Linked DNA regions of Homo sapiens: regions 1 and 2 are each linked to region 3. Evidence: fine-mapped expression QTL. A gene starts in region 3. Each other region holds a variant in brackets. All regions are shown on one strand. Distances are from middle to middle. Region 1 overlaps SPSB1 (splA/ryanodine receptor domain and SOCS box containing 1). Region 2 overlaps MIR34AHG (MIR34A host gene). Region 3 holds the start of SPSB1 (splA/ryanodine receptor domain and SOCS box containing 1).

The links. PIP is the estimated chance that this variant, and not a neighbour inherited with it, causes the effect.
Region 1: its variant is fine-mapped to the expression of SPSB1 in whole blood (INTERVAL, PIP 0.97).
Region 2: its variant is fine-mapped to the expression of SPSB1 in macrophages (Nedelec 2016, PIP 0.95).

Annotation. Positions count from the first base shown.
Region 1 is chr1:9,361,730-9,369,905 of GRCh38, forward strand. It overlaps SPSB1 (splA/ryanodine receptor domain and SOCS box containing 1), which reads left to right. Exons shown (of 3, transcript NM_025106.4): 3 at 5,719-7,803. The coding sequence ends at 5,846. Among named protein-coding and RNA genes, the nearest start is that of LINC02606, 63 kb to the right of the region's middle. The variant C/T (reference allele first, on the strand shown) is at 3,752.
Region 2 is chr1:9,162,438-9,170,613 of GRCh38, forward strand. The region is part of intron 1 of MIR34AHG (MIR34A host gene); the gene reads right to left. Among named protein-coding and RNA genes, the nearest start is that of MIR34A, 15 kb to the left of the region's middle. RefSeq lists silencers at 268-337, 488-557, 2,328-2,377 and enhancers at 1,488-1,817, 7,095-7,596, 7,597-8,096. The variant A/C (reference allele first, on the strand shown) is at 3,649.
Region 3 is chr1:9,289,337-9,297,512 of GRCh38, forward strand. SPSB1 (splA/ryanodine receptor domain and SOCS box containing 1) reads left to right here and starts at 3,558. Exons shown (of 3, transcript NM_025106.4): 1 at 3,558-3,735. RefSeq lists silencers at 3,223-3,392, 3,443-3,522, 3,593-3,662, 4,203-4,492.

The DNA.
Region 1 (8,176 bases), 72 kb after region 3:
GAGGCTGCTGTGTCACTCTCCCTCTCTCTCCTGGAGGGCAGGAGTGGAGATGGCCATTGCTGAGTGGGGAGACACAGGGCCTGGCCTGACCCCGGGCCTGCCCGCCACCCTCCCTGGAGATGTGGAAAGGCCTGTTTGCAAGCAGCAGGCTGGCAGGCTGTCCAGGGGGAGCCCCTGACCTTGTGGGTCCTCTGGCTCTACCCCCACTGCTTTAAAGACATCTCCCACTGAGGAGGCATCTTCCATGCAGTTCAGCATTTTCGAATTTTCTTTAACGGCTCCCAGATGGGTTTGGTGTGGTTTGTCGTGGTTGAAGGTTCAGGGAAGGTCAGCTCGTCTCCTCAAGATCAGAGCCTCCTCCCGGGTGCCTCCTTCCTGCACTCCACTCCAGCTGGACTCTGCCGGGAGCTACTCATCGGGAGACTGATACACCGCCACCAGGGCCACCCACCCTCCCTCCCTCCCTTCCTTCCTTCCTTCCATGTCGGGGAGGGGTTGTCCCAGACCCTATTCCCCACACCCTCCAGAAGTTCTGGTCATATGAGGACCGCAGGCTCTCAGAGTTTGGGGGGGATAGGGGACCAAGGGTGTCTGATCACCTAGGTGGATCTCAGGCGTCCTTCCCCAGTTGACAAGGACAAAGGCTCCACGTTGTGTTTGGCTGTGCTCTTTCGTAAGAACTGCGTAGTGTAGAGGAAAACACACACACATCCTATGATGGCCACCCGACCCGTGACATTCTAGAATCCATGTCCTGGAGCGTGGTCCCCACAAGCTGCTTGCAGGGCCAGCCACAGGAGCCATGACAGCTGTCAGCGAGGACATTGCGGAAGCCGGGGCATTCTCTGATGCGGAACATTTTTCCTTGACCTCACCGTTCTGCAGCTCGTTCACTCAGCCCGTGAACTGGGCACAGCACCACACTCTTGAGGCTTGAGTTGGGTTGAAATCTCTCGGGGAACAGTGAGACAGTTGTGGGTTGGGGCTCTGGGGCTGTGCATGTTCACGTGGGCCACCAGGTAGCCGTTTCTCACAGAAATGTGGAAGCTGGTGCACTGTCTCTTCCAGTTCCTCAGGCTTCTGCTCCCAGAAATAGCGCCTGATTGACTTCCTGATTTCTTTGCTGCTCATTCAGCATTGCACTCTCATTCACAGAAATTATTTAAATGAATGAGCGCCTAAGCTTCCTGGGGATGGGCATAGCAGCCAGAGGCCCCAGGCCACAGTGCAGGTGCCCACCCCCTCGGTAGATTTCAGCAGGCACCTGGGTTTGTGGCTGGAGCTGGGTGCAAAGCTGGCAGCCCCCAGTCAAGAGTGTGGAGGTTGGGGAGAACTCCCTGGTACTGGTAGTGACCAGCTGAAATGGGGGCTGGGCATTTTTTCACGGCACGAAGCCCACGTCTGTTTCTGTGGCCATGCATTCTTGGTCTCTGCCCAGCCTTTGGAAAGCAGTTAGACCGGGCCCTATGCGCCATCAGTTTCCTCCTGCAAGATCAAGGAGGCGTGACCTGTTTATGTACTTGAGGACCCAGAGAAGAGACCCATTCACAGGATGCCTGGGTGACTCTGGTCCTATTTTCAGCTCATAACACATCACTGCAGCCATTCACTGCCACTTCTCTAGCCCGTCTTGGTGGATCCCATGACCCATCCCTAACTGGTTTATTCAGTGAGATCCAGAGATGGCCAGGCTGTGGCAAGTCCTCTACCCCACACAGCTGCGTTCACAGGGGATGGATTGTGGCAGCTGGAGGGCCTCATCCCTTTGGAGTCCATGGCTCTCAGACCTTGGACCTGTAACTCTCACCTCCCCAAGCCCATTTCCCTATCTGTAGGTTGGGGTCACAGTCCCCATCAGGCACACGACTGGTGCCCCACAGGCCATGGCTGGGGCTGGGGCTGCGGTGTCAGCCACTCAAAATAAGGCACTGGATGGAGCTGGGGGCTCATGTGGGCCTCTGCAGTTTTAGAAAATTTTTTTTTTTTTGGAGATGGAGTCTCATTCTGTCACCCAGGCTGTAGTGCAGTGGCGCAATCTCAGCTCACTGCAAACCTCTGCCTCCCAGGTTCAAGCAATCCTCCTGCCTCAAACTCCCAAGTAGCTGGGACTACAGGCATGCACGACCACACCCAGCTAATTTTTGTATTTTTAATAGAGATGAGGTTTTGCCACACTGGCCAGGCTGGTCTCAAACTCCTGACCTCAGGTGATCACCCACCTCGGCCTCCCAAAGTGCTGGGATTACAGGCATAAGCCACCGCGTCCAGCCTAGAAACATTTCTTCATGGGTTGATTGGAAACCCGTTACACCAAGAGGGTAGTGACTGAACTCCCTCTCAGCCCTCACTGCTGCAGCCTGGCAGGGCTCTTGGGCCACATTCAGTGGCTCTTGGAGCTTTCTCAGGTGCTTTCCAGCCACGAGGGAGAGCCCCTCCACTTTCCGGCGGGGGCTGAGCCACATTCTCCCGGGAGGGAGCTCAGGGCAGCCCAGACCCCTTGGCCCTGATGCAGGCCAGATGCAGGCGCGCTCCCAAGCAGAGAAGAGAACACACCTGCAAATTCCCCACTCCTCTGTGCAGAAGACCTACTCCCGACAGCCAGGCCAGACCACAGGCTGCGATAAGCACTTCTGGCCTTCAGGATCTTGGCTGCATGGGACTTTGGGGAGAATCTGGTCTGGATTCCGTGTCTTACAGATGGGGAAACAAGTCCGGGCAGACGGAGGGATGTGCTCCAGGTCAGGCTGCGGGGCAGGGTCTGGAGTCACCAGGCTGGGTGTTTTACCCGAGGGAAACCCAACCCTGTGAGGAGCCGGGTGGGTGGAACCCAGTCCCACCCCATCACGAGGGGTCTGTGGGATCCTTGACCTTAAAGAACCCAAGGTTATTTCATTCCTCCATTCGTCTCCAATCAGAGCTCCTCTTAATCATCCTAAGCTGGCCACGAAAGGCCCCCTTTCAAAATTCTCCATTAAAAATACAGAACATTTCAGTTCCTTGTCAGGAGCTGTGGCTGTGACCGTCCATGGGGGATGAAGAGCAGTGGTCCCTCTTCTTTTGTTTATTTATTTTTTCAGTTTTGGGGTTTTTTTGTTGTTGTTTTGTTGTTGTTGTTGTCGTTGTTGTTGTTGGTTTTTCTGAGACAGAGTCTTGCTCCGTCACCCCAGGCTGGAGTGCGATGGTGTGATCTCGGGTCACTGCAACCTCCACCTCCCAGGTTCAAGTGATTCTCCTGCCTTAGCCTCCCGAGTAGCCGGGACTACAGGCCCATGCCACCATGCCTGGCTCATTTTTGTATACTAATTTTAGTAGAGATGAGGGTTCACCATGTTGGCCAGGCTGGTCTTGAACTCCTGCCCTCAGGTAATGCGCCGGCCTCGGCCTCCCGAAGTGCTGGGATTACAGGCGTGAGCCACCACACCTGGCCTGTTTTCATTTTTGAGACAAGGTCTCTGTTACGCAGGCTGGAATACAGTGGCACAATCACAGCTTACTGCAGCCTTGACCTCCTGGGCCCAACCGATCCTCTCGCCTCAGTCTCCCAAGTCCTGGCTGATTTTTATTTTTTGTAGCGATGAGGTCTCCCTATGTTGCTCAGGCTGGTCTCAAACTCCTGGGCTCAAGCAGTCTTCTGTCCTTGGCCTCCCAAAGTGCTGGGATTACAGGTATGAGCCACTGTGCCTGACCTGGTCCCTCTTCTTTTAAAGCTTGGGGTTTAGTAAATGCATTATCAAGCCTAAGGTCCATTCTT[C/T]TATTTTGTAACAGCTTTACTGAGCTATAATTCACATACCTTACAATTCACCCATTAAAGTATCCAATTCAGTGGCCTCTTGCGTGGTGAGATGTAGGAAACAATTTTAGAACATTTTCATCACCCCAAAAAGAAACCCTATACCCATAAGCAGCCTCTCTCCATTCTGCCATGCCCCACCCGTAGTGTTTGGTCTTCAGTAATTGATTTTCGTATATTTGAGACACATTGGTGAATATTAAAGAACTTTAATCCACTTTTTACTGGTAGGATGGAGTTTTGCGGGTTCCTTTTAGTTTTGGGGGCTATTTTGCTCACAAAGGAGTCTCAAAGTCAAGGGGAGACCGTGGATGAAGCCTCAGATCCATTAGTTTCAGGGCTTTCCATCTGCAGAACAGCGTGGGCGGCCCCACGAAGGTCCAGGTGTGCTCACTCCTACCTGGTTTCAGGAAAGAGAGCAAAGAGGGGTCTGCTCTGGCGAAGCGGGCGAGCAGGGCCGCGCAGCCTTCCAACGCTCAGAAGCCTTGGAAGGCATGAGTTTCAGACTCCTGAGATCTGAAGCTGACGGCTCATCTGAGATGCAGCTGAATGAACTCAGCCTCCTTTGTAGGAAGGCAAGGCTGGGCGCTCTGGGAACACAGGATGGAGGTGCCTGGGAGGCTGCAGCTGGAAGCGCTCTGTAACCCTGGGGCCTGAGGCAGCTCTGCCCAAGTTCCCCTGGCTGTGAGAGAGCCCCATGTGCCTGGGGCAGTTGCGGGGAGAAGGCCCAGGCAGCTCTGGGGGATCAGCTGAAACTGGGCTGGCATTTCCAGTTTCCTGGGGCCTGAGCTTGGCCTGGGCCCTCAGCCTCACTGTCAGACAGAAGCACAGACACCCGGGGTTTCTCTGTCTCCATGTGGCACAGAAATGACACCTTCAGGCCGTGGGGCCAGCCAGGCCTGTCACGTATGATTCAGGACAGGGTTTGCCATGTCTTCCTTTGCAGCATGGTTAGTGGCTAAGGGCATGGACGCTGGGCCCAGGCTGCCTGGATTCAGATCCCAGCCCTGAACCTTGGCACACTGGGTGTCCCCTCTGTGCCTGTGTGTCCTCAGTTCTTTTTTTTTTTTTTTTGGACCGAGTCTTGCTCTGTCGCCCAGCTAGAGTGCAGTGGCGTGATCTCAGCCCACTGCAACCTCCATCTCCCAGGTTCAAGCGATTCTCCTGCCTCAGACTCCTGAGTAGCTGGGATTACAGGCACACACCACCACGCCCAACTAATTTTTGTATTTTTAGTAGAGACGGGGTTTCACCATGTTGGCCAGGCTGGTCTTGAACTCCTGGCCTCAAATGATCCACCCACCTTGGCCTCCCAAAATGCTGGGATTACCAGCGTGAACCACCATGCCCAGCTAGTCTTCAGCTTTAAAACAGAGGTGAGAATGGTATCTGAGAGCAGCTGGTAACAGAAAATGATTCCCTTCCTGAAGCTAGTGCTGGGGGTGCGTGCCAGGAAGAGCTGGCTCCCATGTGTTCCGACCGACAGGCCCCAATGGCAGCTGCTTGCCTGGACAGGCAGAGTCACCAGTGGGGAAGAGCAGGGATCGCCTGGGTTCGAATCCTAGCTGCATCTCCTGCCAGCAGGGCGACCCCTGGCAAGTCATTTAGACTCTGTCCCTCAGTTTCCTCATCTGTAAAATGGGGATGAAGGTAATGGTGTCTCTGTGACTATTAAGTCATTCATAAGAAACCACTGTGAGGATTAAATGAGTGTTAGCAGAGGGCTCGCCCAGGTGCCCAGCCCAGGGTGGGCTCCTGGTGGCAGCTATTCACATGCTAAATTTAAAATGAAAAAGCATTGCATTTTTCATTGTTTCTTTACTGATTTGAGTGAATACTAATCAGTGATAATATTGCTGCTGTGGTTAGCGCTGTTTGCTGAACACCCACCCAAGCTGCGCTGACCTGCAGTTTCTCTGTCTCCCCAGCCGAGCCGCTGCCGCTCATGGATTTGTGCCGTCGCTCGGTGCGCCTGGCCCTGGGGAGGGAGCGCCTGGGGGAGATCCACACGCTGCCGCTGCCGGCTTCCCTCAAGGCCTACCTCCTCTACCAGTGACGTTCGCCATCATACCGCCAGCGCGACAGCCACCTGGTGCCAACTCACTGAGCCGCCTGCCGCTGGGGCCGCCGCACCCTGCACCTTGGACCGGCATCCGTAGCCATGGACAGAGGTCCCTGGTCTTCCCTCATCCTCCGTGGCTGCCTCCATGGGACAAGGACCGATTCCAACACAGGCTCCTCTTTCCCCCTTCCCGACATCAGCAGAAGGCAGCATCCCTGCATGCCGTCCGTATACAACCCCTCTTTGAAAAAAGACACAGAGAATAAACTCCTACGAAAGCCCTACATTGAGCTCCAATCTGCTCGGGGTGGGACGGGTGCTTCCCACACCTCTGGGAGAAGGCTGCAGCCACCTGGGGGTCCCAGGGTGGTGGGGGTGGCAGGTGGTACCACAGCTCTGAGAGCAGATACCAGGGGTACTAAGAGGTGCTTAGACAAGGGCTGGTGCCCGGCCCAGGGTGCCCAGCGGGGCCATGCCATGGCAGATAAAGCTCAGGACGTCAAAAACTCACCATGGACCCCAAGGCAGAAACCAAGAACTGTCTGCAGGCAAATAAGCACCCAGCACCCATCCTGGCTGCCGGTGCCCCGTACCCTGTATTTATTCTTTTAACAATAACAAAAGCCATTTATTTATTCCATCTAGAAAGGAAACCCTGTTTCAGTCCCCTCTCTCTGGCTGTTCTGTTACTTTCCTTCCACCTGTGCCCTCCCTGGGATATGTATGCCTCGCCCGCCCTCCCTGGGCACATGTGCACACGTGCCCAGGCACAAGTATGTCTCTGGGTCCCTTGCCCTGCAGTTTCCAGGGGGCTCTGCTCCAAGTTCCCTAGCGGGCCCCTCAGGGAGAAATAGCCTCACGTGCAATCTGGGTGTCTTCGGGGGCCCGTCTGGAAGGGCTGCAGCAATTCCCCTGTGTCTCCAGGTAACCAGCTAACTCTTGGGCTCAGGCACCCTTGCACAGGGTTGCATTTCTTTAGTCTTCTGTGGGTCTTTTGATGTGGGTTTGATTTTGCTTTTGCTTTTCTAGCTGAGATTTCCCAAGTGCATCCTCAGAAGCTCTGGGTGTGCCAGAGGACCCCCAGAACTAAGAAGGGAGGGCGAGTGGGTCTCCATTCCCCGAGAAGCCGGGGGCAGGGTGGGATGGGGAAGACCAGGAGCAGAGTCGAGCCTCACAGAAGCCAGCGCGGGTCTCTGCTCAGCACCCCAGCCGGGGCTCTGGACCCAGGGTAACAGCCCCAGTTCATCCCAACCCCTCTCAGAGCCTCAAGAGGGGTAGCTCGGCTGCCGGAAGAGAGGGGTGCCCTATCCCTGGCAACCCCTCCACGTAGCGTACCCCAGCACCTGCCACCGCCTTTGCCATTTCTTTGAGCTTGAAGTTAACTCTCTTAGAGTCTAACTTTGGTTCATTTCTGCACAGGTACAATAGATGACTTTATTTGTTTAAAATGTTTAATATATATACATACATATATATATATTTGTCTGTAAGAATTATGTTTTAAACAGCTGCTGTAGAGTACCTTTTTTTAAGTAAATCTTACAGTGGAGTATATTTTTTAAAGCACAAAATTGGTGCCAAGACTGGGTGAGAAATGTACATTACCCCCTTATTATTTTGACGGTTTTTTTTTTCGGGGCAGGGGACCTTACCTGTAAGACTTTTAAAGATTTTCCTCCCTCCTGTTTCAGGTGGGTCACATTCTGATGAATGTTTCCCTTGTACAGATCCCAGCTTATGGCCTTGACCCAGCCGTCCTCACAGATGCCGGGTGACCCTCTAGCTCTCTCTGCATCTCCCACCCCCCGACACCCTGGGACCCTCGACCCCACCCTTCTTTCCTACCAGCCCAGAGCCTTGTGGCTTGTACAGTTTTGAAACTCCCGTTCTATTTTATGATGGTTGATAATAGTCAGTAACCTAATAAAGGAACGTTTGTTAAAATATCAAACCATTTTTGAATTCCTCGTTTGTGCCTCGGGGGAGGGGAAAGAGACATAGCTGACCCCTCCTGGGTCCAGCCAGCTCCACGGCCCACAGTTTTCAGCAGATGATGGGCTGACTCCCTACCACCCCTTGGCAGAGGGTGGGATGCCAGGCAAAGCCCCAGACAGAGAAGGAGAAGGAGAGTCCTGGAGGGAGGACCCCAGAACAGCCTCATCCCCATTTCAGAAGTTCCTCAGCCTGGCAGCCCAAGCTGCAGAAACTTGCCAAGTCTAACAGACAGTGATTCTGTGCCTTCGTGAGCGCATCAGGTTGGTTTGTGGGGTTGTAGAACTTGAGTTGACCGTGGGCTTTTTAGGAGCAGAGTGTGAGCCATTGTG
Region 2 (8,176 bases), 130 kb before region 3:
CGTCACGGTGATCGTCAGGGTCAAATTCCAGGGCTGCTCTTTCCCCCTGGGTGGCTATTTTGGGAAAGCAGCTTTTCTCCAGCAGTGGACAGACTAGCTACTATGGACGCTGGAATCCAGAAGACTCAGAGCTCTGCCAGGGCCCAGCACAGGTAAAGGCACGGAGGACAGCCCTGGGAGCAAAGAGACAGTTTGCCCTCAGGTGCCCCTGAACTCCGCTCTGAGCACACACAATCCCACGGGTCCCTCCTGTCCCTACCCTTCAATAAGGATCACCCAGCACTTGGGGTCCTATCTGGCTTGGAAGAGGACGTGGGGCTTGAGGTATTACCCAAGGTGTTGAGGGGGTACAGCTGGAGGGGCAGGTGGCATCAGGTCTAGCGGCAAGGCCACTATTTTCCTGCCCTCCAGGACTGAGAGCCCTTAGCAGCCAGATTTGGCTTCTCTTCCCTTTCACTCCCTGGCCCCTGATGCCCGTCAAGCTCAAGTCGATACTGAACAACTGAGTACACAGCACAGCCTGGGTGTGAGGTCAGACTCTGTGCCTGGGATTGGGGCGGGTCAGGCATCTGACTCTGAGTTTCAACCACTGCTCAAGTTCAATCATGTGCTTCTAAGCTGCCAATCAAGCCAAACCTCTGGGAGTCACTGAAGAATAGAAACCGCAAGGCCAAGAGGAGGGTTGTGGTGCCCTGTGGTCTTGATAACTTGGGTTTTGAATGCAGGGTGGATGTTAAGATATAAAGCCCTTCCTAGGAAACCAGAAGACATCCTCCTAAGGAGGCAACAAAGCAGGGCAAGGCCCAGGAGAGGACCTGTGATGGAATTCAGACAGAGCCCAACCTCCCAGGGTACAGCCTTGTTCACGGGGCGCGGGAGGAGAAGGCTAACTGCTGCTGAGTGTGGCCAGGCAGGTCTTCAGCTACTGACATCAGGGCTGTGTCCACCCCTCAGAGCAGCACTGAGCTTGAAAGTGAAGCCCTGGCCGAGCGCGGTCGCTCACGCCTGTAATCCCAGCACTTTGGGAGGCCGAGGAGGGCAGATCACCTGAGGTGAGGAGTTCAAGACTGGCCTGACCAACATGGAGAAACCCCGTCTCTACTTAAAAAAAAAAAAAAAAAAAAAAACAAAAAAGTGAGGCTCTCTCTCAAAGCCAGCCCTTGCTCTGCTGCCCCAAGAGGGTCCTGCAAACACACGGGCCTTGTCCAAGGGGCCTGATGTGCAGGAGAGGGGCAGGGCCCAGGGCAGTGACCCCGAAGGGCTCCATCCTCGGACCTGACTCCTCCTTGCTCATAAACAACCAGGCCTTTGCCTTCCTCCCACACCAGTCCCCGGGTCAAAGGCCTTAAGAAAATCCCCGGTGCACTAGCCAACTCAGACCGCCCTGGCCCTTAGATCATCCGCTAGTCACTGGGCTGAGACCCAAAGGAGAGGGAAATATTTGGCGATTTCAGGGAACTGAACAGCAAAGGTGTTCACAATCAGACCACCAGCAGGAGTGCGGCACGCCCCTTAAACACTCTAAGGAAGTATTTACCAAGGCTGCTAAAAAAGAAGTTGAGGATTTCTGCCTCTGATTTAGTAGAAAATAATCTTTGAAATTTACATACAAAGTCCCATGATAAGTCATTTGGGATCCCCCAGAGGAGGAAGGCTGCTTGCGGTTAGACTGGGTGAGTCAACGAAACAAACAAATGGGCCCGATGAGGTCAGCTTTTTGGAAAAGGAACAAAGAAAACTGCACCCAAATGAGAGGCAGCTTACAATGGTGAAGCAGTGGTCACAGAAAATCCATTTCCAAAGCCTCTAATCCAGCAGTTTGGGGGATGATTTTGTCACCCAGGGGACATTTGGCAATATCTAAAGACATTTTTGGGGCCGGGTGTGGTGGCTCATGCCTGTAATCCCAGCACTTTGGGAGGCCGAGGCGGGCAGATCACTTGAGGTCAGGAGTTCGAGACCAGCCTGGCCAACATGACAAGACCCTATCTCCACTAAAAATGCAAAACTTAACTGGGCATGGTGGCACACACCTGTAATCCCAACTACTTGGGAGGCTGAAGCAGGAGAATCACTTGAGACTGGGAGGTGGAGGTTGCAGTGAGCCAAGATCGCATCACTGCACTCCAGCCTGGGTGACAGAGCAAGACTCTGTCTCAAAAAAAAAAAGAAGAAAAAAACCCAGACGTTTTTGATTATCACAATTGAAGGGTAGGGAGTGCTCCTGGCTTCTAGTGGGTAGAAGCCAGGAATGCCGCTAAACATCCTACAGTGCACAGGGCAGCCCCCACCACAAAAAATCATCTGGCCCCAAATGTCTGTAGCACTGCCACTGAAAAACTGTTCTCATCCACCGAGAACTCTCTCTCTCTTCCTTGCAAGTCCTGGGCAAAAGGTTGTTTTTAGTAGCCCAGAGGGCCATGGTGGTGACAGCTCCTCCCTGGGTGATGCCAGGCTTCAGGGGGTCAGCATCTTTGGAGGGTCCTCTAGGCATAGACCCCAGCTTGGGCAAGCCACTTGGCTGCCCCTGCATGGGTGACCCTGCCTGACTGCCCCTGGCTGCAACAGCCCCTTGCCGAGGCTTCTAGACCCTCAGAACCTCCCCCCTGCTGCTCTGGCTCTCAAGGTCCCACAGTAAAGCCACAGGAATGAGAAGGAGCGATGACAGTTCTCATCATCCCGTCATCGTCACAGCAGACTGGTAGGTGCTTTACAGGTGACAATGAGCTTTCACATTCGTTGTCTCACCTGAATACATAAAAGCCTCACCCACTGTTAAAACAATCTGAGTTCTTGACCTGCCAGACCAGTGGAACATGCAGAGGCCACCTGTCCCCGATGAGGGCCTGGGGGAGAGGGAGCCGTGCATTCATCTGGGGAGACCCCAGAGTCCAGAGCTGGGCAGAGGTGACAGCAGCCTGTCTAGGGGACCTGGGGGAAGCCAGGGTTCTGGCTGCTCCACGGCAGGCCCTGAGGTGGAGGGTCTAGACCCTGACCAGGCACCAGTCCTGCTGAAATGAGGCTCCGGAAATAGACGCACATCACACTCCCTGGAGTATTTTCTGGGCGGCCACAGAGTTCAGCAAATAGTCAACAGAAAGCATCTCCAAGAAGTGGGTGAACCGGAAGGACACATGCCCAAGGCTGATATGGGAGGTGTTTGGGGACTTAGGGAAGAAGCAGGACAGAAATAGGCCCAGCTCATTAACTGCATCTACATATGAATTGCTTGACTTTTTTTTTTTTTTTTTTTCAGAGACAGGGTCTGGCTTTGTCACCCGCTGAGCTGCAGCACAGTGGCATGATCATAGCTCACCAGAGCCTCAACCTCCCCGGCTCCAGCCATCCATCTTACCCCCTCAGCTCCTCTAGTAGCTGGGACCACAGGTGTGCACCACCATACCACGCCTAGCTAATCTTTTTTTTTTTTTTTTTTGAGACGGAGTCTCACCCTGTCCTTCAGGCTGGAGTGCCGTGGTGTGATCTCGGCTCACTGCAACCTCTGCCTCCCGGATTCAAGCAATTCTCCTGCCTCAGCCTCCCAAGTAGCTGGGATTACAGGTGTGCGCCACCACACCTGGCTAAATTTTTGTATTTTTAGTAGAGACGGGGTTTCACTATGTTGACCAGGCTAGTCTCGAACTCCTA[A/C]CCTCAGGTGATCTGCCCATCTCGGCCTCCCAGAGTGCTGGGATTACAGACGTCAGCCACTGCACCTGGCAACCCGGCTAATGTTTAAAACAATTCTTTTAGAGACAGGGTCTTACTATGTTGCTCAAGCTGGTCTCAAACCTCTGGGCTCAAGTGTTTCTCCAGCCTCAGCCTCCCAAAGTGCTGGGATTACAAGCATGAGCCACCGCGTCTGGCCCGTTTGAGTTTTTATGAGTATTATTACTTATTTTATAAATCTAAAAGAACATTAGGAAAAAATAAGAATAAGGGCAGAATATCTCGTATCCACACCCCCTTTCACGGGATACAGAGCCTTGCCTGCTTGGGAAACTCCTGAACTGCAGTCTGGGTTGCAACTCCATGCGTCATTCATCCTGGTTACCAGACCCTGGAAAACCGACGCCAAGTGAGACTCTGAATAAGTCAAAGGACAGAGACCACAGGAGACAGCTCCCGGCGCTAAGCAAACGCCTGTCTCCAGCAAACCTCAGGAAATGAGAGAAACAAGTCCACGCTCCAGCTGGGAGCCCCCTGCAGCAGGGAGGCTGCCCATCTTACACCCCTAGACCTCCTGCCTGCACTCCCCCTGAGTAGGTGGCCCCTGCCACTGCCGTTCCCCTCAGACCACGGCCTTTCCTCGGGAGAGAGGGTGGATGTGGGGAAACACCAGCTCTTCAATGTACCCTGGGAAGGCGGATCCTGGAAGGCCCTTTTGAAGTTTGAGCAAAGAATGGGAGGATGCGACCCACCAGGCAGGCAGGAGCCGCTGACTCCAATGCGAAAATAGAAACTGCTTCCCTGTAGCTTGGATGCTATTGCAGCTGGCACACAGAGGCTGTTAGGATCAAGACGAGGTTCTGGATCCAGTGCCTGCCTCTGAGGCTGCTCACAAGGAGGAAAGTCACTGCAAAAATGCTTGGCCCAGGCCGGGCGTGGTGGCTCATGCCTGTCATCCCAGCACTTTGGGAGGCCGAGGCAGGCGGAATCACCTGAGGTCAGCAGTTCAAGATCAGCCTGGCCAACATGGTGAAACTGGTGTCTCCAAAAATACAAAAATTAGCCAGGCGTGGTGGCACACACCTGTAATCTCAGCTACTCGGTAGGCTGAGGCAGGAGAATCGCATGAACCCCAGAGGTGGAAGTTGCAGTGAGCCGAGATGGCACCACTGCACTCCAGCCTGGGTGACAGAGTGAGACTGTCTCAAAAAAAAAAAAAAAGAAAAAGAAAAAGAAAAAAGAAAGAAAGGCCAGGCGCAGTGGCTCACCCTGTAATCCCAGCACTTTGGGAGGACAAGGCAGGCAGATCACGAGGTTAGGAGTTCAAGACCAGCCTGACCAGCCTGACCAACATGGTGAAACCCCATCTCTACTAAAAATACAAAAATTAGCTGGGCGTGTGACGCACGCCTGTAATCCCAGCTATTCAGGAGGCTGAGGCAGGAGAATCACTTGAACCTGGGAGGCAGAAGTTGCAGTGAGCCAAGATCGCGCTACTGCACTCCAGCCTGGGTGACAGAAGGAGACTCTGTCTCAAAAAAAAAAAAAAAAAAAAAATGCTTGGCTCACCTGGCAGCTTTAAGCTTGGAGCCTCCTGGCCACCTGACCTGCTCTCAATGCACACAAGGCACAGCCTCCTGGAATGGTGCCTGCACGCCCACTTTATCACCCACTTTCCAACCTGCAGAACTGCCGTCTAATTTTCCATTTACAACTGTTCCTCCACCTCAGGCCTCAGCATTGTTTCTGCAGCTTCAACTCCTTACTCCTCTGTGCTGTGAGAGCTCTGTGCTCCCACCTCTGGCTCTGTCACCCACAGCCAGTGTGAATAACTCACAAGGTGTCACCAAGACCTTCCACCTCCCCAGGCTCTCTGTTGTGCAAAAGGGATTCACACACCTAGAGACAGGGCTGGAGCTGGGTGGCCATGGGACTGACCTAGAGGGACAGCTCATATGCTCCACCATTCTTGAGGGCATCTACTTCCCAGCTAACATGTAAAGCAAGAAATTCAGACCAGGCACGGTGGCTCACACCTGTAATCCTAATGCTTTGGGAAGCTGAGGTGGGAGGATCTCTTGAGCCCAGGAGTTTGAGACCAGCTTGGGCAACACAGGGAGAGGCCATCTCTAAAAAAATATTTTAAAATCATCCAGGTGTGCACCTGTAGTCCCAGTTACTCAAGAGGCTGAGGAGGGAGGATCGCTTGAACCCAGGATTTTGAGGCTGCAGTAGGCTATGATCACACCACTGTACTCCAGCCTGAGCAACAGAGCAAGACCCTGTCTCTAAAAATAAAATAAAATAAATGCAATGTGGGCATAACATCATATTTTGAGGACATACTATACATTGAAAAATGTCAAGGAAAATGGATAGGTTGATAATATTCAAAATAATCTAAAGTGTGTGTGTGTGTGTGTGCATGCGTGTGTGTATGTGTCTTTAGTTCAAGAATATATGGTGCAGGGCTGAGCACAGTGGCTCATACCTGTAATCCCAGAACTTTGGGAGGCCAAGGCCGGCAGATCACTTGAGCCCAGGAGTTCGAAACCAGCCGGGGCAACATGGTGAAACCCTGTCTCTAAAAAATAAAAAAAAATTAAAAAAAGAATATATGGTGCAAAGGCAAATAAAAGCAATGTTTCCAGTGGGCTAGATGGAGAAGTCCCTTTGCTGCCTCTCTGGGTCACATGGGAGAAGCACAGTTCCCTGTAGCCCCCATCCGGGGTCCTGGTACTCTGTAAAGGCTGCCAGACCTGGGGGTGAACCAGTGATCTGGGATGCAAGGGAGCAGGCAGTGGAAGAGACAGGAGCCAAGCAGATACAAGTTCACCACACTGGGCCATGCGTTCCTGGAGGAAACCTACTTCCTTCCATCCACAGGGAAGGGACTCAACACAGAGTGTTTTTATAAAGAGTGTCAGGACCCAATGTCTGAATGTGGGGGGATAGCCCACGGCTGGCCCAAGGAACATGTGTGGACCACCAAGCGCTGTCCTCTCTCTTCCTGTCCCCATATAGAGATGATTTGCTTTCCAATCACATCTACAAGTACTCGGTGTCTTTGGCCCTTGCCTGACCCCTGGTTCATGGCAAAACCTACCCTTGGGTAAATACCAGATGCCCTGATGTGGAATGGGTTGGTGCCGCAGGAGACTCATCTTCAGTGGATTCTGCATTTGAATATGGAATACATTTTCTTTTCTTTTCTTTTTTTGAGACAGAGGCTCGCTCTGTTGCCCAGGCTGGAGTGCAATGACATGCTCTTGGCTCACTGCAACCTCTGCCTCCCGGGTTCAAGTGATTCTCCTGCTTCAGCCTCCCAAGTAGCTGGGATTACAGGTGTGCACCACCACACCCGGCTAATTTTTGTATTTTTGCAGACACGGGGTTTCCCCATGTTGGCCAGGCTGGTCTTAAACTCCTGACCTCAGGTGATCCACCCGCCTCGGCCTCCCAAAGTGCTGGGATTATAGGCGTGAGCCATGGTGCCAGGACTGGAATACATTTTCTATCTGGCTTAAGCCAAAAGAATGAAGCTCTAATGGCTGAATTTCAGCCACAAACCAGCTCACTGAAGGAGATTGGGTGGAGGCAGGCAGCATAAGGGGAGGTGTCCCTGAGCTCACAGACCAGGGCCCTCCTCACTCAGATGCTGGCTCTATGCCCCCCAGGCCTTCTGGGGCCAGCCTCTCTGCCTTGAGGCCCCACCCTTCTAGCTTCACAAGTAACTCTTACTCATCCTTCAGGCCTCGGTTAAGCGCCCTACAACCCCCCTCACTCAGCTATGGGCTCCCAGTGCCCACCCCAAGCATCACACGTCTCCCTGCATCATGGTGGCCAACTCGCTTGTACCTCCCTCTCACCAGACTGAGTGTCAGCTTCCTGTTCCTACTCCCAGCACCTAGCCCAGCAGACAGGACATAGTGAGTGCCAGTAAAGGTCTGTTGAGAAAGCACAGGAGGAGGAGTGGGCAAAAAAAGACGGGCAGCGCTGCCAGCCAGCCTGCGCTGTCAGCGGACCGCACGTTCCAATCCTTCAAGAGCTTAATGATCAGGCTGAGCCTCAGGTGTTTAGTCTGTCGTCAGCCCAGAAAACACAGGTGAGGCAGCAGATGGGAAAGTGCTTTAAAAACTGTAACTGGGGCCGAGCGCTGTGGCTCATGACTGTAATCCCAGCACTTTGGGAGGCCGAGGCAGGTGGATCACAAGGTCAAGAGATCGAGACCATTCTGGCTAACATGGTGAAACCCCATCTCCACTAAAAATACAAAAAATTAGCCAGGTGTGGTGGCAGACACCTGCAGTCCCAGCTACTCAGGAGGTTGAGGCAGGAGAATCGCTTGAACCTGGGAAGTGGAGGTTGCAGTGAGCCGATATCATGCCATTGCACTCCAGCCCAGGTGACAGTGTGAGACTCTGTCTCAAAAAAATTATAAAAAAACAAAACTGTAACTGCAGGGAGTCACACTTCCATTTCAGACCATCTTTGAGTACACCTAATTTTT
Region 3 (8,176 bases):
AATCCCAGTACTTCGGGAGGCCACGGCAAGAAGATCACTTGAGCCCAGAAGTTCAAGACCAGCCTGGGCAACATGGTAAGACCCTGCCTCTATTTTTTTTTTTTAATTAACATATAAACACTCTACTTCTGTTTTGCATCATGAGATAAGTACACATCTTATGCTAAGGATGCATAATAGATGTAGATTTTATTAATATGCTTCAGTGTTCTTCATGTTCTGGTGGATCTTGCTACAATTCTGTGTTGTGGATACCAAGCTTTTCTTTAAAAAAAAAACCTATTATCTTGAAAATTCTCAAAATCCTTGATTTCATTCTAGCACAATTAATTGTGTTCAGTTAATGTTGGTTGAATGATTGCACCACCTCCCCAGTTTCTGGGGAAATGTGTAGAGCAGTTCTACAGATGAGAACAGGAAATCTCAGAAAGGTTAAGTAACTTGCTCAAGGTCACACAGCTGATGAATAGCAGAGCTGGGGGTTGCATTGGGTTTGTCTATTACCAAATCCTTTGCACATTTGCTCCAATCAGCAAAAGGGATTCAGAGAAGATGGCAGCCTTTAACACTTGTGAGGGCAGCAGGATTCTGTGCTAAGAGCTCAAGGCTCAGAACCATCATCAGAAAAAGCAGCTGATGCTAATTCACCATCTATCAAGTTTCTCTTCACCATTTCCCGGAGACAGATTAAAGACATGAGCAAATTGTGCTGATGCAAGTGATAAAATGTGTGTGGGGGTGGGGTGGAGTTGGGGAGGGGGTTGGGGATGACACCACTGGGAGCCCAGAGCCACCTCCCTCCCGACTCACCCCTGCAGTACACAGATCTTTGTATAAGTCCTGAGTCACCCTTCAAATTTTTGGATAGTATCTATCAGCTTATGTCACAATGTTGCAAGATTATGTATCTTTTTTTAACAAACAATAGTATCAGCATGCTAGGGTGATTCTGAGCCCTTCTGACACATAAACTGGCTTCCAGGATTGCTCAACATTGCCCCATGCTGCAGCAGTCACTGCCGGCTGACCAGCCTTCCATCATCCGGCCAACCTGCCCAGCGTCCTGGAGGAGAGAAGGCCCACTCCCCAGGGGTTCTTCTGGGAAATTTAGGTCAGCAGGGTCTAATTATTCAACTGGATCAAGAGCTGAGATTTCCAGATTAACGCCGAAGGGGGGTGGGGTGGGGGTGCTGAAGACTTTTCATCAGGAACTGTCTTTCAGGGCCTTAAACATCAAAGCTGGGTCTCTAGCTCCAAAGTGCCCCAGTCTGCCCTGGAAGCTTCCCAGATGTTAAGAGGTGAGGCTTGGTGGAGTTCCTCTTAGCAAAGCTGACAACACCATGGCCCCAGGCCACGTGGCCGTAGCACCAGCCCCATGAGATGCCAGTGTCTGGTAGATGCCACACACACAGTGAATAATCCACCAAACAGGGCTACTCTCCCAAGGAGAAATGAACCCATCAGAGGCAGCTGTGATTTTCAGCAATGACTGACGTGGGCTGCACCCCATGGGCCTGTCCCAGAGGCTCTCACCAGTCTCCCAAGTAAACAACAGTTCTCAAACTGCAGAGTGGCTGGAGGGGGTCATATGCTCTTTTAAAATTATTATTACCTTTTTTTTCTTTTTTTTTGAGATGGAGTCTCGCTCTGTTGCCCAGGCTGGAGTGCAGTGGTGCGATGTCGGCTCACTGCAACCTCTGCCTCCTGGGTTCAAGAGATTCTCCTGCCTCAGCCTCCCGAGTAGCTGGGATCGCAGGCACGTACCACCACACCCAGCTAATTTTTGCATTTTCAGTAGAGATGGAGTGTTGCCATGTTGGCCAGGCTGGTCCTGAACTTCTTTTTTTTTTTTTTTTTTTTTTTTTGTGAGACGGAGTCTCGCTCTGTCACCTGGGCTGGAGTGCAGTGGCGCAATCTCGGCTCACTGCAATCTCTGCCTCCCGGGTTCACACCATTCTCCTGCCTCAGCCTCCCAAGTAGCTGGGACTTACAGATGCCCGCCACCACGCCTGGCTAATTTTTTATATTTGTAGTAGTGACGGGTTTCATCGTGTTAGCCAGGATGGTCTCCATCTCCTGACCTCGTGATCCGCCCGCCTCGACCTCCCAAAGTGCTGGGATTACAGGTGTGAGCCACCAAGCCCAGCCTGGTCCTGAACTTCTGACCTCAGGTGATCCACCTGCCTCAGCCTCCCAAAGCGCTGGGATTACAGGTGTGAGCCATCATGCCCGGCCAATTATTATTATTATTATTTAATTTTTGTGCAGAGTCTGTGTCTTGCTCTGTTGCCCGGGCTGCTCTTGAACTCCTGGGCTTAAGTGATCTGCCTGCCTCAGCCACCCAAAGTGTGGGGATTAAGGGCGTGAGAGCCACCACCTCCAGCCTCAAGTGATCTTTTAAATGGGAAGCACCCCTAAGCTGCTGGCCATGGCTGCCCACCTGACTAGTCTGGGTTCAACATTCCTAAACCGCTGGCACCTGGAAAGTCAGAATGCCCACTCAGGCCCGCCCAGCCCAGGGCAGTTGGTTGAGTCTCCGTAATCCTATTCTGAGTTCAAACAAAGCTAAACCAAACTGATTTTCAGCACCGTAAAATGAGAGACATCAAACTTTGTAATCTCACAGTTCAATTGGGTTCCAAGCTCTGGACAGCTGGCCTCGGGCCAGGCACTGTTTCCTCGCCTTTACAGTGAGTGTGTCATTAGTCCCACCCTCACTGTACTGGGTTATGGTAAAGACACAGTAACTACGGAAGCCCCGCTATTTGTTTCGGCTCCCCCAGAAAGGCTAACTCCTCACCGTTTTCAATGGACACTACACAGCGAGGGGTGGGGAATGCCAGGAGATTTTGCTCTCAAAACAGCAAAGTCTTTAAAATCTTCCCAGTCCCAAGTGACTGCTCTGTTCGGGGAAGGGGGAGGAAAATTCCTTGAACGAGCTAGAGCCACAGGACAAGTCCCCAGAGGCTGGGACCTGTTCAGGGAGCAGCCCTGCGGATGCCAGGTGCCCGCGCCCTCAGGGTCTCGAGGTCCGAGGCCCCCGTCCCCGTGGGCACCGAAACGCGAGCGGCCGAAACAGCGCTGCAGGAGGCTCCCTGGACCCCCGGCGGCTGCCCACTCGTCCCCGCTGGGCACTTCAGAGGAGGCCGGCGAGGCCTTGCTCGGGGTTCCTGGGACAACCCCACTCTCCGCGAAGATTTCTCCTTCTCGTAAGACCCCCGCCCCCACTCCAGCCTCCCACGGCTGCAACCCAGGCCCTGCGCCACGCGTTTCCCAAAGACGCCTCCGGAGGGACCCGAGCTTCGGGCCGGCAACACCAGGGCGGCGGCTCGGGAGAGGGCTGCGGACTAAGGGGGCGGAGGGGGCGGCCGAACCAGCGCCGGGCTGACGCGCCCCGCGCCCCGCGCCCCGCGCCCCCGGCCTTCCCTGCAGTGCTGAGTGGTCCGTGCGCCCGAGGTCGGGGGCGGGGCGGGGCGGGGCGGGGCAGGGACGGCCCCGCCCACCGGCGCTTTTCTCTTTTTTTTCACTTTAAAGCCGTCGGTTGCTTTTTCTCCTCCGCACAGAAGTCGCGCTCGGGCAGCCTGCGCGCTCGCAGCAGGAACCAGGCTCCAGGCGCCGGCGCCGGGGCCGGGGCCGCGGGGAGGAGGCGACTTCGCTCCCTGCGGCGGGCGCGGCCCGGGCGCCCGAGCCTCCTCGGCCTTGGAGAGCAGCGGCGGCGGCGGCACCCCGGGCGCGGTAGGCGGCGCGGGGCACCTGGGACCCCGATGGGTGGGCGACCGGCCCGGGAGGGGGAGGCGCGGGGGGCCGGGCGAGGGCGGACGCGGGGATCGCGCCGCTGGGGGACCGAGTGGGTGGCGCGGGGCCGGGCGCGGGGGAGCGGGTGGAGTACGGGATGGGGACTCGGGGCGCGGCCCCTCCCGCGGTGGCTCCGGGGGCGCCTCCCTCGCCGCGGCTCCTGGGAGAGGGGCCCAGGCCCGCCCCGCGCTGCCGCCGCTGCAGGGCAGGGGGTCCCGGGGCGAGGCGCGGCGGGGGTCTCGGGGCGCGGGGACCGTCGCAACGAGTTGCGGTCCCGAGGAGGGGCTGGGGCGCTCCGGGGCCGCCGACCCGTCCCCCCTTTAGCCCGGGGAAAGCGGGACCCCGCTCGGCTGAGTTAGTTTCGCTTTTCCCGCCAGTCCGAGTCGGGATTGGCGGCGCGGCCCGGTCCCCCGTCGGGGCGCCCCCACCCTCCCGCAGCGCCTCCCCCAGGGAGCCTGCCGGGGACACCCGAGCGCCGCCCTCCCCGCCGCCCCGGAGCCGCCGCGGCTTCTCCCAGCAGCGGAGGGAGAGCCGGAGGGTTGTCAGGAAATCGATTAAATCAGAAAAACAAGGGCGGCCTGGGCCCGCGGGAGGAACCGCGGATGGGTCACCGTCCCCGGGCGTGTACTGGGCTCGGTGGCGTCCAGGTTCCGGTGAGGACGGGACGGCCCCGAGAGGAGGGTGCGGGTCTGCAGGAAGAGCGGGTGTCTCTGAGAGTGCATCTGCGTGTGTGTTTGTGCATGTCCTTGTGAATATGTGCCTGCGTATGAGTGTGTCTGTGTGTTCATGTGGGTGTGTGTGTGAGTGTGTCTCTAAGTGCATCTGTGTATTTATGTGCCTCTGAGTGTGTGTGTGAGTCTGTGTGTCTGTCAATGTGTGCCTGAGACTCTAAGTGACTGTGTGTGTGTGTGTGTGTCTGAGTGCGTCTTTGTGTATTTGTGTGTGCCTCTCTGTGTATGTCTGTGTGTCTTTGTGTGTGTCTGTGTGTGAGTGTGTATGTGTCTTTGGGTGTGTGTCTCTGCAAGTTTGTGTCTCTGAGTGTCTGTCTCTGCAAATGTGTGTCTCTGTGTCTTTGTGTCTGTGTGTGTCTTTGCGTGTGTGTGTCTTTGTGTCTCTTTGTGTGTCCACACGTGTCTCTGTGTCTGTCTCTGTGTCTGTGTCTCTGAGTGCGTCTGTGTATGTGTGAGTGTCTGTGTGTCTCCAAGTGTGTGTCTGTGTGTCTTTGTGTGTGTTTCTCTGTGAGTGTGTGTGGGGACCATCCAGGGGGCCCTCTGGTTCCTAGGTACTGCTCCTCATGGTGATTTCTTTACTTGGTTCTGGATAGCCGGGCATGCTGGGCCACAGACACCCCACTAGGCAAGCCCTGCTGGTGCCCCCGAGGAGAGCGCAGGCTCTTCCTCTCTCCATTTCTCTGAAAATGAACTACACAGTTTGGGGGTGAGTTGGCAGGGGCTGCTTCCTGAGTGAGTAATATTTAATTAAACACTCCAGTCTGTAGCATCAGAAACTGGTCATGAGTTGAGTTTTAACAGGTGTTCATGGTAAAAGCGCCATCCCTGGTGACTAAGGTTTGATGTCCTTGGAAGAATTTTCTCGTTGGGGGGGCTGGGCCCACAACTTCATTTCTCATCGTGGGGTGTGAGGAGAACAGCAAGCAAGGAAGGGGATGGGGGCCTCTCCCTTCTGCCCTGTCCCCCTCCTCAGACCCCCCTCCCAGTGGTGGAAAGCCCTGGGCTAAGCATGGGCAGCACAGGTGGTCTCTCCACACTGAGGAATTTTGGAGTCAGGGAAGTCCTGTCTTACTGTCTAGGCCAGCCTGTCCTAGAGAGGCCCAGAGAGGGCGGTTCACTTACCCAGACTGCACAGCCAGGGCTGTGGACCAAGACTCCCCAGTCCTGAAACTGTTGCTCTTGGTTACTGTCCCCAGCACTGAGGTCATGGGCCAGGCACTTCGTGTCTCCCCAGCTGTGAAGTGATGGGCTGGATTAGATCATTTAAAGCACTCCTGCTCTCTTACAGCTGCTTTTCTTCTGCAGGGAGCACTTTACCCAGTAGATGGAGTGTGTGTGTGTGTGTGAGAGTGTGAGTGTGTGTGTGTGTGTGTGTGTGTGCGCGCGTGCGGTTGGGGAGGTGTGGAGTGGACTAAGGCAATCACTTTACAAGTCTTCCTTTTCCAGTCTGGCTACCACCCTAGCAGCAGAGAAAACAAAAGCAGTAGCATGTTGGCCCCAGTGGCTCAGACAGCCCCGAGCAGGGAGCAAGGCGGGTGCCATGCCGGCTTAAGAGAGACCTGGCCCTGGGAAGAATCAGTGGGTTTCAGGGCTCTTAGGAAGGGGTGGGCCTGCCTGGGGCCCTGGTGATGTCACTTTGGAGCTGGGTGAGGCCGTTTCTTGGGCTGCTGTAGTAAGGCTGGATCCACCCTTCAGTGGGTCCCTCTGGGCTGCTGCAGAATCTCACCCCCTTGGAATCATCACAGATGTTGAATTTCTTCACCAGAGCTGGGGAATGGGGTGGGGGCCTAGCCCGTGGAAGCCAGCGCTGCCCTCCCACCCCCATGGTGTGTGCCGTGCTCCCTTCCTGCACCTGCCCCTCCTCCTGGGTGGATGGAAACTTGCCTGCAGACGCATTTTCAAATTCAGCGAAACCTCTGATTCTTACGGTGTTCATGAGTTCGTCTGGGCATTTTGTATCAATTTTTCTCGAGAAATAGGTTGTAGCTGGTGTGCATGACTCAGTGTATCTTTTGGTTCTGAAAAATTTTATCAGACGACAGCACAAGGTCAGGTACAGGTGTGCCTCAGTCTGCCCAGGGGTGTGTTATCCTCTCCCCAGCCCTCAACACTAGATCAGTGAAATCCAGACTCTAAGGGACTTCGATTTTGGACTTTCAGTGAGTGCTCTCCCCTCCCCCAGTTATCTGATAACATCTCCCCCAGTCTAAAGTTCCACTGGCAGCCAGGTGCCCGGCTCTGTGCTACAGAGTGCTTTATGGACGTGACTTTGTTTGAATCCTAAGCATAATAATAGCGGGAAATGGTTTCATGGTTTCACGGTGCGTGCGAGTACTGGCTCTGATCTGAGTCCTTGACGCATTGACTCATGGGCTTCCTGAGGACCCTGAGAAGTGGGTTTTGCCTCCATGTCCATTCTGCTGAGGATTGCAGGTAACTTGGCTAAGGTCTCGCGGCAAGGGAATGGTGGAGCCAAAACTCGAATCCAGACTTGGCACCCAAGCCCTTCACCAGTAAGTTTGTCACCTCCACCACCTGAGCCTTTTCTTCAAGAAGCATGGGCTCATTTTTTTAGTGAAATTTTTTGTTATTATGGAAAATGTCAAACACACCAAAGTTAGAGGCAGAGTATAATGAGCGATCAGGTTTCCTCACCTCGCATGCACACACATACACATACTCACATATGCACATGCATACTTATGCTCACAGAAGATGTGCACATGTGTACACACACATACATATGCACACACATATATGCACACATACACACACACGCTGGATTATTTTGAAGCAAATACAAGATGTCAGGTCATCTGTAGCTTCTTCCTAAGAAGCATTTAAAGGAAGCATCACATCTCAAAGAGGTTGACTGTTACTCTATGCGGGGCAAGAGTCGGGAGATGTACGTCCTTTCTGACTTGGGCTTGAGGCTCCTTCCTTGCTTGGACAAAGGGAGGATGGCAAAACCCAACAGCACATTGGGGGATCTGTCCTGCTGCCAACCCCCTGAAACCTTTGGGAAGCTGCCTGTTTGCTTTGTGTTTTAAAAGTTCTGTTCATTGCCCAACGTTAAAAATAAATGAGTCCAGTGGTCATGAGACAGACCACATCAACAACAGGCTTAGGCTCTCGGGGCCTTTCTTGGAGATGGGGAAGAGAATCCGCCAAGGCACAGCCCAGCCTTGCCTGCCATTGAGGTCCAGACCTTGTGCAATGCAGGCATGGGATTTGTGGCAGGGCTGGGTGTCAGGAGATGTGACTGTGAGAATGGTTTGTCAACAAGCTCTGAATCTGACCTGAAGCTTAGCCTGACCCTCTTGAGTTTACTGCGTAGGCGATGGGTGGAGGAATCCAAGAACCTCTGCCACCCTTGGGCGTCTCTTGGAAAACTAGGGAGGCATTGGGTGATTTGAGCACAAGATGAAGAAAATATCAGGATGCAAACTCCACACTTGAGAAATGACTGCTGAGTAGGAATATAGGATTCCAGGGTTGGAAAAACCTACCTGTGACAAGGGCTTGACGGGTGCCCCAGTTGTGAACACACCTTGCCAGACAGTCAGAGTGTGGCCAATCTGGTCACACCCTTTCCAAGGTCAGAGTGAGGAGCTGCACTCCACACCAAGAGAACCACTTGAGTTTTCTAA